Regions from separate parts of the Homo sapiens genome. Here regions 1, 2 and 4 are each reported to be linked to region 3. The links are microRNA targets in miRTarBase. Many come from high-throughput screens and were not tested one by one. Region 3 holds a microRNA gene; each other region holds the end of a gene's coding sequence.
The links. Region 3 holds the annotated microRNA hsa-miR-328-3p (CUGGCCCUCUCUGCCCUUCCGU, at 2,076-2,097, shown strand). A microRNA usually pairs through its seed, bases 2 to 8, with sites in the 3' UTR of a target mRNA and lowers its output. Matches are read on the target gene's strand: a 7mer-m8 pairs with bases 2 to 8, a 7mer-A1 pairs with bases 2 to 7 and ends in A, and an 8mer does both.

Region 1: the mRNA of PTPRJ is a reported target of hsa-miR-328-3p. The part of its 3' UTR that is shown has no 7-base or 8-base seed match.
Region 2: miRTarBase lists SLC25A40 as a target of hsa-miR-328-3p. The part of its 3' UTR that is shown has no 7-base or 8-base seed match.
Region 4: the mRNA of TYW3 is a reported target of hsa-miR-328-3p. The part of its 3' UTR that is shown has no 7-base or 8-base seed match.

What each region holds. Positions count from the first base shown.
Region 1 is chr11:48,166,678-48,169,821 of GRCh38, forward strand. It overlaps PTPRJ (protein tyrosine phosphatase receptor type J), which reads left to right. Exons shown (of 25, transcript NM_002843.4): 25 at 527-3,144. The coding sequence ends at 685. Among named protein-coding and RNA genes, the nearest start is that of OR4B1, 49 kb to the right of the region's middle.
Region 2 is chr7:87,833,718-87,836,873 of GRCh38, forward strand. SLC25A40 (solute carrier family 25 member 40) reads right to left here. Exons shown (of 12, transcript NM_018843.4): 11 at 3,013-3,093; 12 at 1-2,644. The coding sequence ends at 2,532. Among named protein-coding and RNA genes, the nearest start is that of SLC25A40, 41 kb to the right of the region's middle.
Region 3 is chr16:67,201,291-67,204,423 of GRCh38, reverse strand. MIR328 (microRNA 328) reads left to right here and starts at 2,029; the gene lies at 2,029-2,103. ELMO3 (engulfment and cell motility 3) reads right to left here. Exons shown (of 20, transcript NM_024712.5): 9 at 2,989-3,039; 10 at 2,782-2,904; 11 at 2,551-2,682; 12 at 2,346-2,447; 13 at 2,140-2,248; 14 at 1,891-2,027; 15 at 1,634-1,797; 16 at 1,420-1,532; 17 at 1,201-1,305; 18 at 1,015-1,097; 19 at 841-927; 20 at 420-759. The coding sequence ends at 547.
Region 4 is chr1:74,763,593-74,766,735 of GRCh38, reverse strand. TYW3 (tRNA-yW synthesizing protein 3 homolog) reads right to left here. Exons shown (of 6, transcript NM_138467.3): 6 at 59-2,842. The coding sequence ends at 2,623. Among named protein-coding and RNA genes, the nearest start is that of TYW3, 32 kb to the right of the region's middle.

The DNA.
Region 1 (3,144 bases), not on the chromosome of region 3:
ATTTTTCTGTGTCAGCTTATACCCTTGTTTCCTCTTTTCTTCATCACTATCCACAGATTCTGATATACCTACCTGAAGGATAGTCCTCATCCAGCTCCACCTGATCATCTCCTTTTAACCTCGCTCCTCGGTTGAGCATTACAGTTGATTCTTACTCTGTACAGTCTCACTAGCCAAGGCAATCTTGTTGGACATTTGATTGTTCGAATGTGTGTGTGCATTTTTTCCTCTACATTTCCTCCTTCCTTTGCCCTTCCCTGAGACTGTGGCATTTTTCCTTGGGGAGGGGAGGTGTGGAGTGTGCTCTTCTGGTTGAGAATCATTGAGGAAGGACATCTTGCTTCTGTGATTTCAGATTTCACTGCAATGTTGTTACCTCTTGAAACATGTTCGCTTGAACCGTTTGCTGTTGGGTGGATGGGGTTTGGGAGTTGGGCGGGGGAATGACCTGTTTGAAAATAATTTTGGGTGCTAATTTCTGGGACCCATGTTCATTTTCTGTCTCTCTCTTTCGTTTTTCTATCAGGACCAGTATGTTTTCCTCAATCAGTGTGTTTTGGATATTGTCAGATCCCAGAAAGACTCAAAAGTAGATCTTATCTACCAGAACACAACTGCAATGACAATCTATGAAAACCTTGCGCCCGTGACCACATTTGGAAAGACCAATGGTTACATCGCCTAATTCCAAAGGAATAACCTTTCTGGAGTGAACCAGACCGTCGCACCCACAGCGAAGGCACATGCCCCGATGTCGACATGTTTTTATATGTCTAATATCTTAATTCTTTGTTCTGTTTTGTGAGAACTAATTTTGAGGGCATGAAGCTGCATATGATAGATGACAAATTGGGGCTGTCGGGGGCTGTGGATGGGTGGGGAGCAAATCATCTGCATTCCTGATGACCAATGGGATGAGGTCACTTTTTTTTTTTTTCCCCCTTGAGGATTGTGGAAAACCAGGAAAAGGGAGCTATGATTTTTTTTTCCAAAACAATTTCTTTTTTAAAAAAGACTATTTTATATGATTCACATGCTAAAGCCAGGATTGTGTTGGGTTGAATATATTTTAAGTATCAGAGGTCTATTTTTACCTACTGTGTCTTGGAATCTAGCCGATGGAAAATACCTAATTGTGGATGATGATTGCGCAGGGAGGGGTACGTGGCACCTCTTCCGAATGGGTTTTCTATTTGAACATGTGCCTTTTCTGAATTATGCTTCCACAGGCAAAACTCAGTAGAGATCTATATTTTTGTACTGAATCTCATAATTGGAATATACGGAATATTTAAACAGTAGCTTAGCATCAGAGGTTTGCTTCCTCAGTAACATTTCTGTTCTCATTTGATCAGGGGAGGCCTCTTTGCCCCGACTCCGCTTCCCCTGCCCCCTGTACATTTGTGCTCCATTTTTTCTTCCCTTTTCCCTCCCAGTTTTCTCCAAAGACTCTTCTGTTGGCAACATTTTCAACCCATTGGTTGGGTGAGAATGGCGACTCAAATATCACCTTGAGAATTTCTGTGGGTGGGAATGGGAGAAGCAGAGGAATCCTACAGTGGCAGAAATCCTTTTCTTGTCCCTGTATTATCCTTTTTCTCATGTCTGTATTTGGTATGAAGGATTATTTAAAGGTGCAATATGTGAATTAGTGATTCATGATGTTCTAGGTTTTTAGTAACGTTTTACTCAGGTTGGCATTTTATGTGTCTGTGTCTGTATGTGTGTGTGTATGTTCAGAAGCGTGGCAATCTGTGAACACTTCAGCGTGAATTCAGTGTCAGATTAATCCCTCCTTCCCCAAAGTCCACTGGCTTTCGTCTCTCTCTGCCGTGACACATATCGGAATCTACTGTGTATATATATATATATATATATATATATATATATATATATATATATATACACTAAGCTCTCAAAAACAGTCATTCCTATGAATTGAGGTGTACAAAGTTTGAATTTGTATCAAAGATGTAATTATTATTTTTAAAACCTTTTCACTATACTGCTGCTGTAATTACTTTGATTTTTAAAATGTAGATTAATTTTTTTTTTTTTGCTTCAGGTGTGTATCCACCAAGAATTTCAAATTTATGTGGATTTATTTTATTGGTACATAATCTGTAAACTTCTTAAGGCATTAACATGAAAAGATTTTTTCTTTTTATTTTATATTGTGGCTCAGGTTATATTTTGAAGATGTTTTGAGTTTATCCTCCAATAGGCAATGAAGTTGACAAGGTTTTATGAAGGAATAACCAAGTCCCTGGAGTCCTGTGGCTGTTGCCACAGTAATGTGTCCTGCTGTAAACAGGACAGGTGTGTCCTGTTGAGAATGTGAGCGGGCTCTTCCAGCCTCCTGGTCCCTCCTGACTCTGCCACGCCCCTCACCTCACTGGCACTTCGATAACTGACTGGACGTGTTAATGGGTCTTTTAGGGTTCTAAAGGGTGAACCACACTTTTAAAGCCCCGGCTGTGGTTCGGAGGGTTAGTGCTGTATGCCTTTTATTTCCCTTTCCCTTTGAGGTACTGAAAGGATGAAAAGGTGGTGTCATGTTTTGGGGAGAATCTTACTTCTCAAATGGAAATTGCACTTTTTGCTGAATCCTTTGCATTTTTTTGGTAGTAAGCAGTTCATTGAGTATCAGGTCCTCAAAGGAATGAGTTGGCCCGGCTAGGGTGGGCCCTCTTGACCTAACTTCAGAGGGGGCCTTGGCTCAGTAGGTGTGAATCAGGGAAGCCACATTGTCCTCAGGGTGCTGTATGAAGCTGGGTGTGGGCGGATTCCTCCCACACCTTCACACTGGCCTGCCTCCAACTCATACAGATCTCGGAGCGGTCGGTACTTCATTCATAGGTCCCTGTTCAGGCAGCAGTTCTGTGGGCTGTGGCCCTCTCCCCTCCAATATGTCCGAAACCATTGTGATGGGTGGCAAATCCCAGGGAGCTCCTAAGCCCTGCTCTGCCCACATCACTGCCACAGAGAAGTCAGAGGAAGGGACTTGTTGCTAAAAAATCCTTTAAAAGGTTAAATACTTTAAAAGATTAAAGCAACATAACTGTAAACATATTGTATAAAAATGAAAAACACAGGAACCCTCTTCCCTTCCGCCTGGTGTGGGCTTGGGAAATGGGCAAGCGG
Region 2 (3,156 bases), not on the chromosome of region 3:
CAGGTAAACTTTTGTGTCATGGGGATTTATTATACAGATTATTTCATCACCCAGGTATTAAGCCTAGTACCCATTAGTTATTTTTCCTGTTCCTCTCCCTCCTCCCACCCTCCACCCTTTGATAGGCCCCAGTACATGTTGTTCCAAGAGGGAAAAATTTAAAAAACATATGCAGTTAAATAACCATAATGAATAGTTTTCCTAGAAAAAAAAATATTGCCTTTTAAAAAAAATCAAATATGTACTACTTTAAAGGTTGCAACCATCTCATATTGAAAATTAAAGATGTTCCTTCCTAAAATTTTACATTAATCAATTAAATGTTTATGTTAGAAAATTTAACATTAATAGAATAAAAACTGTTTTAGAAACATCACCAAGAACACTGTTGTGGCACATGTTTGCAAATATTGCAATTCCTGCAACATCATATGTATTGAAAAGTCTGGAAAGCCCATGTGGCTGAGAGTTAAATTTATATACTGAAGTAAAACCTGGGAATATTCATCATGCCAATTATAGTTCAATTATTTTATCAGACAGAACTCTGAGAGCAAATTAAAATTTTAAAATTTTACCTATTCCATAGACTGAATTTTTCTAGGTACTATTTTAATACAAATTATTATTATAGCAAAATTCTGAACACTTTTTGGTTGTTAGTATATTTTAAAAGTATTAATATTTCTTTTTACCTCTTAAATATAAAGAAAGCTTCAATTCAGCCTTCTATTCATCCAGATACATTGCATGTATATGTGTTAAAAAAACGACTAGGCAATTAGATTTACTTATCTTACTTTATTCATAAATAAGAATTTTCCTAAGTGCAGTGAGGGGTAGGAGACATGGAAACCTTTCTCATACTTATAGGTGATATTAAACTGAAATATATAACTGCCTTTTGGGAACAGTATTTTTTCTGTTTTCTATGAATTACCCATAAGCATAGCAAAACCAAGATAAATTTAAATTTAATATTGTTAAAGAGCACTGTTCAAGATAAACTTTCATGTATATCACAGTATAGCATTATACAATGATTTTACGTAAAAATATTTAGAAGCACAGTGATGATTTTAAGAAGCCATAAAACATTTTAATGAAATATAAGAAAGTCATGAATATTTATGTGGATATGTATGTTGCAAATTTAAGGTAAATCAACATAGGATAAACACAGAAGATTACATACAAACCCTACATATTTTATTTCTGGTGAAACATATAAACACTTTCCTACTATAGTACAAAATCAATTAGTTCCTCTACCAGCACTAAAGACTTGTCATCTAAATATATTCATTTTAGGGGAGAAAAAAATGCTTCACATTTTTCTAAAATAAAGACTGCAATAAATTAGTGCTTTAAAAAATATATATATATAGGATATAGATCCTAAGAAAATAAAACTAAAGTATAAAAAATGAATAGCATTTCTTTTCCTGCCATCATATCCTTTCTTATCTCATTCCTACATAGAATGAATGATAAGCTAAATTATTTAGACATGTATGGTGACTGAAAGCAATGTCTTCAAGGAAACAGCTTCTTGTTTAGCCTCTTACTCTACCATACTTAGAGTAAAAATCAAAGGATATTTTAGAAATATCTTGTAACTATTGTTGTAGCAATAATCTGTCTTGTTAGAACAACACAATAAAAATGACCTAGAGAATTCCATGAACAATGATACTTGGATTACAAGAGAGCTAAAAATCAGAGGCTATTCCTGTGTGCAAACTATTTTTACCAGTCTAAATACTATATGGTTTACCACTGAACACCCAAGTTTGACTGAAGTGAACATTTGCTACTATCAGTAAAAAACTCCCTCTCTTACAGGAATGGCAGAAATATAGACATTTAGTCATCAAAAATGGCACAATGTACATCACACAAATGATTATATTATGGTTCATAAGGAAAACAGCCACAATTTTGATCAGAGAAATGTTAATACATATGAAGCCTTAAAACAGCAACATGGCGGGGAAGGAGAGGGAGGCGGGAACCTAATGCATTTGAATTAAAGGAAACAGGCAATATTTGGTCGATGTAAACAATGCTATTTAACGAGTGCTTTATCTACTTTACTGAAATACGGAAATACTTATGTACACGATTTAAATGTGCACAAGACTTGGGCTTTTTTCTTCTAGACTATGTACATCATTCAGCACACAATTCAAAAAGTTCTGGTGTATTCAACACACTCCCAGTAAGATTATGTTACACTGAAACATATAATATTAAACTTTCAAGAGACTGCTTTTGATGCTAAGGAGTAATCTATTTTTACAAGAATGCTCAATGGTGGTGATTTCTAGAATATCTTTTTCAATATCACCAAAAATAAGATAAAATTTATTTTAAAATTATGATTTAGAGGTAGAGCTGAAATTATTTATTTAAATTATAGGAAAGAAAGACATAAAATCATTGTGAGAGAATAATGGTGAAAAACATTCTTGCCTAAGAGTCTCCATCTTCTTTGGCTATAGTTGTTGTTTCAAGTTGAAACAGCATCACTAGTATTGCTGCCTTCGAACATTTTGTTTCTGGAAAAAAGCCTTTCCAAATTCATATGTACTGATCATAATGGCACAAGCAGGAGCAATTTTAATTAAGCGAGGAATTAGGCCTGAGAAAAGAATAGGAATAATCAAAACAAATATTTTTTTCTTACCTTATTTTTAAAAATATTATTTTTTGGCTTTATTCTGATAATTATCAAATTAAATGAAGTAATATGTTCAAATCCATAAATTGGTAGAAAAGACTGCTCACTTCCAACATCCTCACTTCAATCCATATTACATTATAGAGAAATTTTTATCTTATTGATAGTAAATCTTTTATTTAACATTTATTTTAACTTATAATAAAGATATTTAGGAGAAAATAAATGTAGTATGTTACCTATAACTTCCTCCTATAAGTTAATTTTAGAAGGTAATATTTTAAAAGTAATCATTCTATTCAATGATTCGGTAAAGCAAGTATTTTTACCTGAAAATAATCCGGAAAATCCATTTTTAGCAACAATGTTCTTCATTATAATCCAGGTTGACATATGCAAAGGCATAGAAACTAAATGTTAAAATAAAGAAATAATGCTATTATAAATAACAATTTAATAATTCCTACTACAGA
Region 3 (3,133 bases):
GCCATGCAAGCTTGAGGACTGAGGTCAGATTGTCAGGAGCCTTCTGGAGATGGCTCCCAGACTACGCCCCTGTTAACGCTGTCCAGGAAGGCATCCATTTGGGGCAGTGCCTCCTACCCTGCCAGTTCTCCTGCAGCAGGCCGGCAGCTCAGCCTCTCCCTTGGCAGGTGCCCCCAGACCACAGGCCAACCCTCCCTGCAGGCCCAGCATGGAGGGAGGCTGAGGACTCACCTTGGAGAAAGGCTGCAGTCCCAGCCTCTCCCCACCCCCTTCAGAACACCAGCCCCTCAACCGTAGCTGTCAAAGTTTGTGGCCTGGCCTGATGCCCCATCTTATCCACCAGCTAAGTTTGAAGGCAGAAGGGGAAGACTGTCACTGTCACAGGCTCAGCCCGCAAGGTACAGAGCTGGCTCAACATATCCCAAGAGCCAAGCAGACTTTATTTCTGCAGCAATCTCTGCTGGTCAGGGTGCCTGCACTCCTCTACCCACTGCCCTTCATGGCTGCTGCAGTGGCCGCAGCTGTGGCCCATGGCCAGCCACACTGTCAAGGTTCAGCGATGCTGCAGTCATAGCAGAAGTTGAAGTTGGTGGGGGGTGGGGGCACAGGGGGTGGCCGCTCGGGGATGGGCACGTTCTCCAGCTCCAGCAGACGCAGCTTGGTCTCCATGGTCAGCAGCTGCTCCAGGTCCAGCCGTGTCTGCTCGCTGCCCATGGGACTGCCCAGCAAGGCACTGAGCCCATCTGTCCACAGGTAGAACTGGGGGTGGCACAGAGCCGTGAGGGTCTGCCCATCTGCCTCCCCTGCCCACCTGCCGACCTCAGCCTGGCGGACACTCACCTCCCGCTTGGAGGGGGCAATGAAGTTGAGGTACGCTTCCTCCTCCCCACGGTCATAGCTGATTGAGAAGGCCAACTCATAGAGGTCCTGGGGAAGCAAGGGAGCGGGGACACTGAGCAGGGGACAGGGTAGGCGGGGGCGGGTGGGAAGGAGCCCCTGGCCCGCTGTACTCACCTTGTTCTGCTTCCCGGAGCCCTTCTCCCGGACATGGGGGCAGTCCTTGCCTGTCAGGAGTGCCCTCATGTCGGCCACAGGGACTGCAGGAAGAAGGCTGGGCTGAGCACTGCAGCCCTGGCAGCCCCGGGGCCCAGGGCGGTCTGGGGAGAGCAGGTATCTGGCCCCCGCCCCTGCCCGCCTTACGTTGCTCGGGCAGACTCTCCAGGGTAGGCGGGCTGGCGCCCTCCTCCATGTCTCCGTACTGCAGCAGCTTGTGGTTGGGGGACAGGCAGCAGAACCACAGCTTATCTGCGTGGAGAAAGGGAAGAGGGCCAGAGTGCTGAGAGGTCCTGACACCAAGCCAGCCGCCCTCTGCCTGCCCTCTGCCTGCCCTCTGCCCCCTGCCCATGCCCATTCAGAGACCCTGGCGCCGCCGGCTGCTGATCTTGCGGAAGAGCGTCCCCTCACAGAGGCGGAGCAAGCGCTGCTGGCGGATCAGGCCCATGAGCTCTGGCTTCAGCTTCTCCCGCAGCTCCCTGATAGAGGGGTGTCACTGAGCACATCTGACCTGGGGAGTAGCCCAGGGGGCACCAAGGAAGGTAGGGCTAGGACTGAGGATCCATCCCCCCAGACTCACAGTATAGGGGGAGCCAGTGTGCCCTCCTGGTGCAGCCGTTCAGTCTGCCGCAGCCGCAGCACCTCCCCATAAGTGAGCGCATTCACCTTGGTTCGGAAGAGCTCCAGGGAAGTGGGCTTCAGGGCCAGAGTGCGGGCCAGCTGCTCCCGCACCACCTGCATGACCTGGGGCCGCCCAAGCTCAGCTCAGGGCCTAAGCTCTGTACCCAGATCAGCCCCCTGCCCTGGCCCAGGCCTCCCAGCTCCCACCCCACCCACCTTGTCGAAGTCCTCCTGTGTAGCCCGCATCTCCTTCCAGGTCTTATTCAACAGCTGGATGCCCACACAGAAGAGCTCGTGGAAGCTCTGGTCTTGGCCGAAGAACATGGGTGAGAAGTCCTGGGCTGTCTCAGAGCCTGGAGTGGGGGGGCAGGAGGGGCTCAGGGAGAAAGTGCATACAGCCCCTGGCCCTCTCTGCCCTTCCGTCCCCTGCTCTTGGCCATGCTGTGCCCAGTCCAGGCCACTCACAGGGCTCCCCAACACGGAGCAGCTCACACAGCAGCACCGTCAGCTGGATGCTGCCCCGGGCAAAGGGGCACTCGTGCTTGTCCTCGCGGCTGCTGTTCTCCAACACAAACTGGGGGCGCAGAGAATGGGGCAAGGAGTCACAGCTAAGCCCATGGGGACCCTGCCTGGGGGATGCTGCCACCCCCCCACCCTACCCTGTCACCGACCCGGCTGTACGCGCTGGGCGCGTTTCTGGAGAAGTACAACATGTTGTCCAGGGCCAGCAGACCGGGGGGCACGCGCTCCAGGTCCTGTGCTGGGTTGCTGTTCTGGGGGAAGTGGGCACAGGCAGTTCAAGAAGGGCCACGGCCGCCTGGAACAACAGCCCTGGGCTGAGGCAGGGGTGGGGAGTTGGGTAGGGGTGATACTCACAGAAAAGCCCAGTTTGCGGAACTCTCGGGCACAGAGGGAACGGCGACGGTCAGCACTTAGCCCGGCACCCGAGGACTCCCCCTCCACCTCGAAGGCAGCCTGGCGTAGGACCTGCAGCTGCTCCCGCTGCTCCTGGGGTCAGTGTTGGGTGGCGGGGGAGGGGATCAAGATTATAGATTCAAGGCCAAGCTCTAAGCCACCCCCTGCCTTGTCCTCACCAAAGACACACACCTGGCTGTAGGGGTCCAGGGGCGTCCGCATGCGCGGCTCCAGCAGCCCCAGCATGAGAGCCTGCAGTACGTACAGGTGATGAGCCATCTCGTCGCCCATTGGTGCTGCACTGTGGATGATGTTCTGCAGGACAGCCAGTCCCTGGTGTAAGCGAGGGCTCACGGGGAGGGAGGGGCAGAGAGGTCCCCCTGGCCCACCACTTCCTACCTTATAGATGAACTGGCGAAGGTTCCTCTGCCAAAGATAGTCAAGCATGTGCTGAGGGGGTAGAAAGAAAGGGGGCTTAGGCTGGGCGCGGTGGCTCACGCCTGTAATCCCAGCACTTTGGGAGGCCAAGGCGGGCGGATCACGA
Region 4 (3,143 bases), not on the chromosome of region 3:
TGTATAAACGTATTACTGTATAAACTTTATAAACACTGGACACTAAGACTACACAAAATTTCATTAAAAATGTTTTATTTCTTCAATAAATTAACCTTGGCTCACAATGAACATTTGGTTTATAAACTTTAATTTCTTAAAACTTTTTGACTCTTTGGTAATAATGCTTAGCTTATTGTACAGCTGTACAAAATATTTCTTTATATCCTTATTCTATAAGCTTTTTTATATATTTTTTTTAACATTGGAAAAACCTTTTTGTGAAAAACTAAGATATAAACACACACATTAGCCTAAGCCTACACAGGGTCAGAATCCTCAGTATCACTGTCTTCCTCCTCCACATCTTGTACCACTGGAAGGTCTTCAGGGGCAATAACACACATGAAGCTGTCACCTTCTATGATAACAATGCCTTCTTCTGGAGTACTTCCTGAAGGACCTGTCAGAAGCTGTTTTACAGTTAACATTTTAAGTAGTATACCCTAAAATAATGATAAAAAGCATAGCAAAGACACAAACCAGTAACATATTATCAAGTATTATGTATGCACTGTACATAATTATATGTACCATACTTTTATATGACTGTCACCACAAACGTGGGTAATGTGTTGTGCTACAGCTTTACAATGACCACATCACTAGCAATAGGAATTTTTCAGGTCCATTATAATCTTATGGGGCCACCATATCGTATATGGTATATGGTCCATCATTGATGATTAAAATGTTATGTAGCTCATGAATGTATATTAAGGAATGTTAAGGAGTGAATGGGATTCAATGTCTTCTTAGGTTTATGGCCAGCACCTGGTGTCTCCTCTCTACTAACCTTATATAAACAGATTATACTATACTATACCTTATATAAACAGATTAGGAAGCAGCCCCTCTCTTCTTAATTCTCATTCATATATTCAGTTTATGGAATCTTTAAAATACATAGTTTTCTTGGAGATCAATTTAAATGAATGAAGAAAAGTCAATGAGCCTCTTAGATTTTAAAACTGCAGAATGTGTTGTCATTTCACCACAGGATAGGCTCGTTCCACCTGCACTCTCTCTTTCCTACTGTTATTTATAACTTTTTTTTTTATTCATTTATCTTCTCTTTTCATTTACTGCACTGCCAGGCAGATACTTTCATATTCTGTCCACCAGACTAGAAGAAATGCTCCAGGCATTCCGACACTGTGAGTTCCCTTTCCTGCCCAAATTTCCTTCCCAGAAGGACTGCTGTATATGTTGGTAGATAAGAATGTGCACTGCACAACTTCGAGTGCCACTGACATTGTCATCTAGGGGAATGTTCCCTCCCAAGTGGTACAGAGTTCAACTTACATAGCTGAACGAGTTGCCATGCTTTCCTGGAAACTGCCTTAGACCCAATGGTAAGGACTATAACTTACCTAAGCTCTTGCTTATTCTCCTATAAAGTGTACACATGAAATCCCTGGCACAGGTACACTGCAACATCTGTTCATGTGACCCTTTTTCTTTTCATTAGAAAAATCTTCAATTCCTCCTCAAATGCTGTCTCCAGGAATAAGTCTGTTATCAGTGGGTTCTAAAAGTGCTGGACTGATTTTATCAGAACCACTTGGATGAGTTGTGTGAAAAATAAAGATTCCTAGACTCCAGGATTAAGATTCTGGTTTGGAAGATCTGCGGCAGGGCCTATTAAAGTAGCATCTCCATGCCTCGTCCTGACCTAGGTAATTCTGATATGCAGCCATATTAAGGAAACACTGTCTACCTCCATGCTAGATTAGAACGGCCCTTCACAGTTGGGCATCAACTACCTTGACTCGCATCACATGCTGTGTTTCAGCCTTTCTGGACTATTCCCCATCACTGACTATACCATGCTTTTTGATGCCTCATATCCATTATATACCCTTTGTCTGCGAGAGGTTTTCTGATTTTTCCCATCATGTGAACTTGTATCTTGTCCTTTTAGTCCTAAATGAAATGGTATCTCCTTGAACTGGAATTCCAGTACTTCCTCACCTGTAATCAATTATTCCCAAATCTTTGTTCCTATAATAATACGTATTATTGAAGTGATACTTAAAAGTTACATGTCCCTAAAAGAATGTTTAAAACTATGTATTTACATCATTAATTTAGTTTATAGCATAAGTTTAAATCACAACCAAAGATATAATTTCTGGCATATCAACTATAATGCTAATTTCCAGCATTAAAATATCCACTATTATTTAAAATAAAGGTCTTTTTACTTAAAATATTTATGCTATCCCTTTTCAAAATGTATCCAAAATAATCTAAATACCTGTCTTAGGTCAGGTTATTTCAGAATAAGACACCATTCAAACATCTTTGATTTATTAAGCAGGTGCTTCTGGGAGAAACTGGTAAAAAAGTAGGGATAACTATAGCATTTCAGGTGAAGTCGTAGGATAAGCCGGGTACTGCTGAGAGCTTAGATGACAACTGCACATCCTCTGGGCAACAAAGTTATAGTTTGAAGCTCTGCACTTGTCATTACTGGCTTATGAATGGCTGATACACTCAACAAACTAAAATACTCTTATGAAGAGCAGCTTTATAAAACCTACTAGAAACATTACGGCCAAGACACATCAGAACCAAAGCTTAGTAATCTTCAGGGAAGATGGTAACATTGATTCCTAGATCATCATCATCATCATTTTCAAGTTCTTCATCACTTTCTTTAGTAATACACTGGGCACGTGTTTTTTCTGGGTTTCTTTTTTTCTTATGAATATATGATGAGTTATTTTTCTCTTTGATCTTGGGATGTAAGTTAGTCATCGTTTCCCTTTCCAAAGCATGCTGTAGGCAGTTGTAAAACCTGTGAAGAAATAAGTACTACTATTATATCTGTGTGTACTGAAACGAAATGACTGAAATACACCAAGAGCTTATAAGTTATGTAAATTTGACTATGTCCCATATTAGCTTTATAAATATAAATCAAATAAATAATATGTTTTATTAGGGAAATAAATGCATTTCAGTTCTTTAAGAACAGCCCTGAAAACTGGATTGGAATCACCTCTTGACAACCTCTGTCCTACCTCACTTTCCAACCCAAATGTAGGGGTCAAAGAAGAGGGTAAAAAAGAATGCAATTATTATTACATAAATGTAAT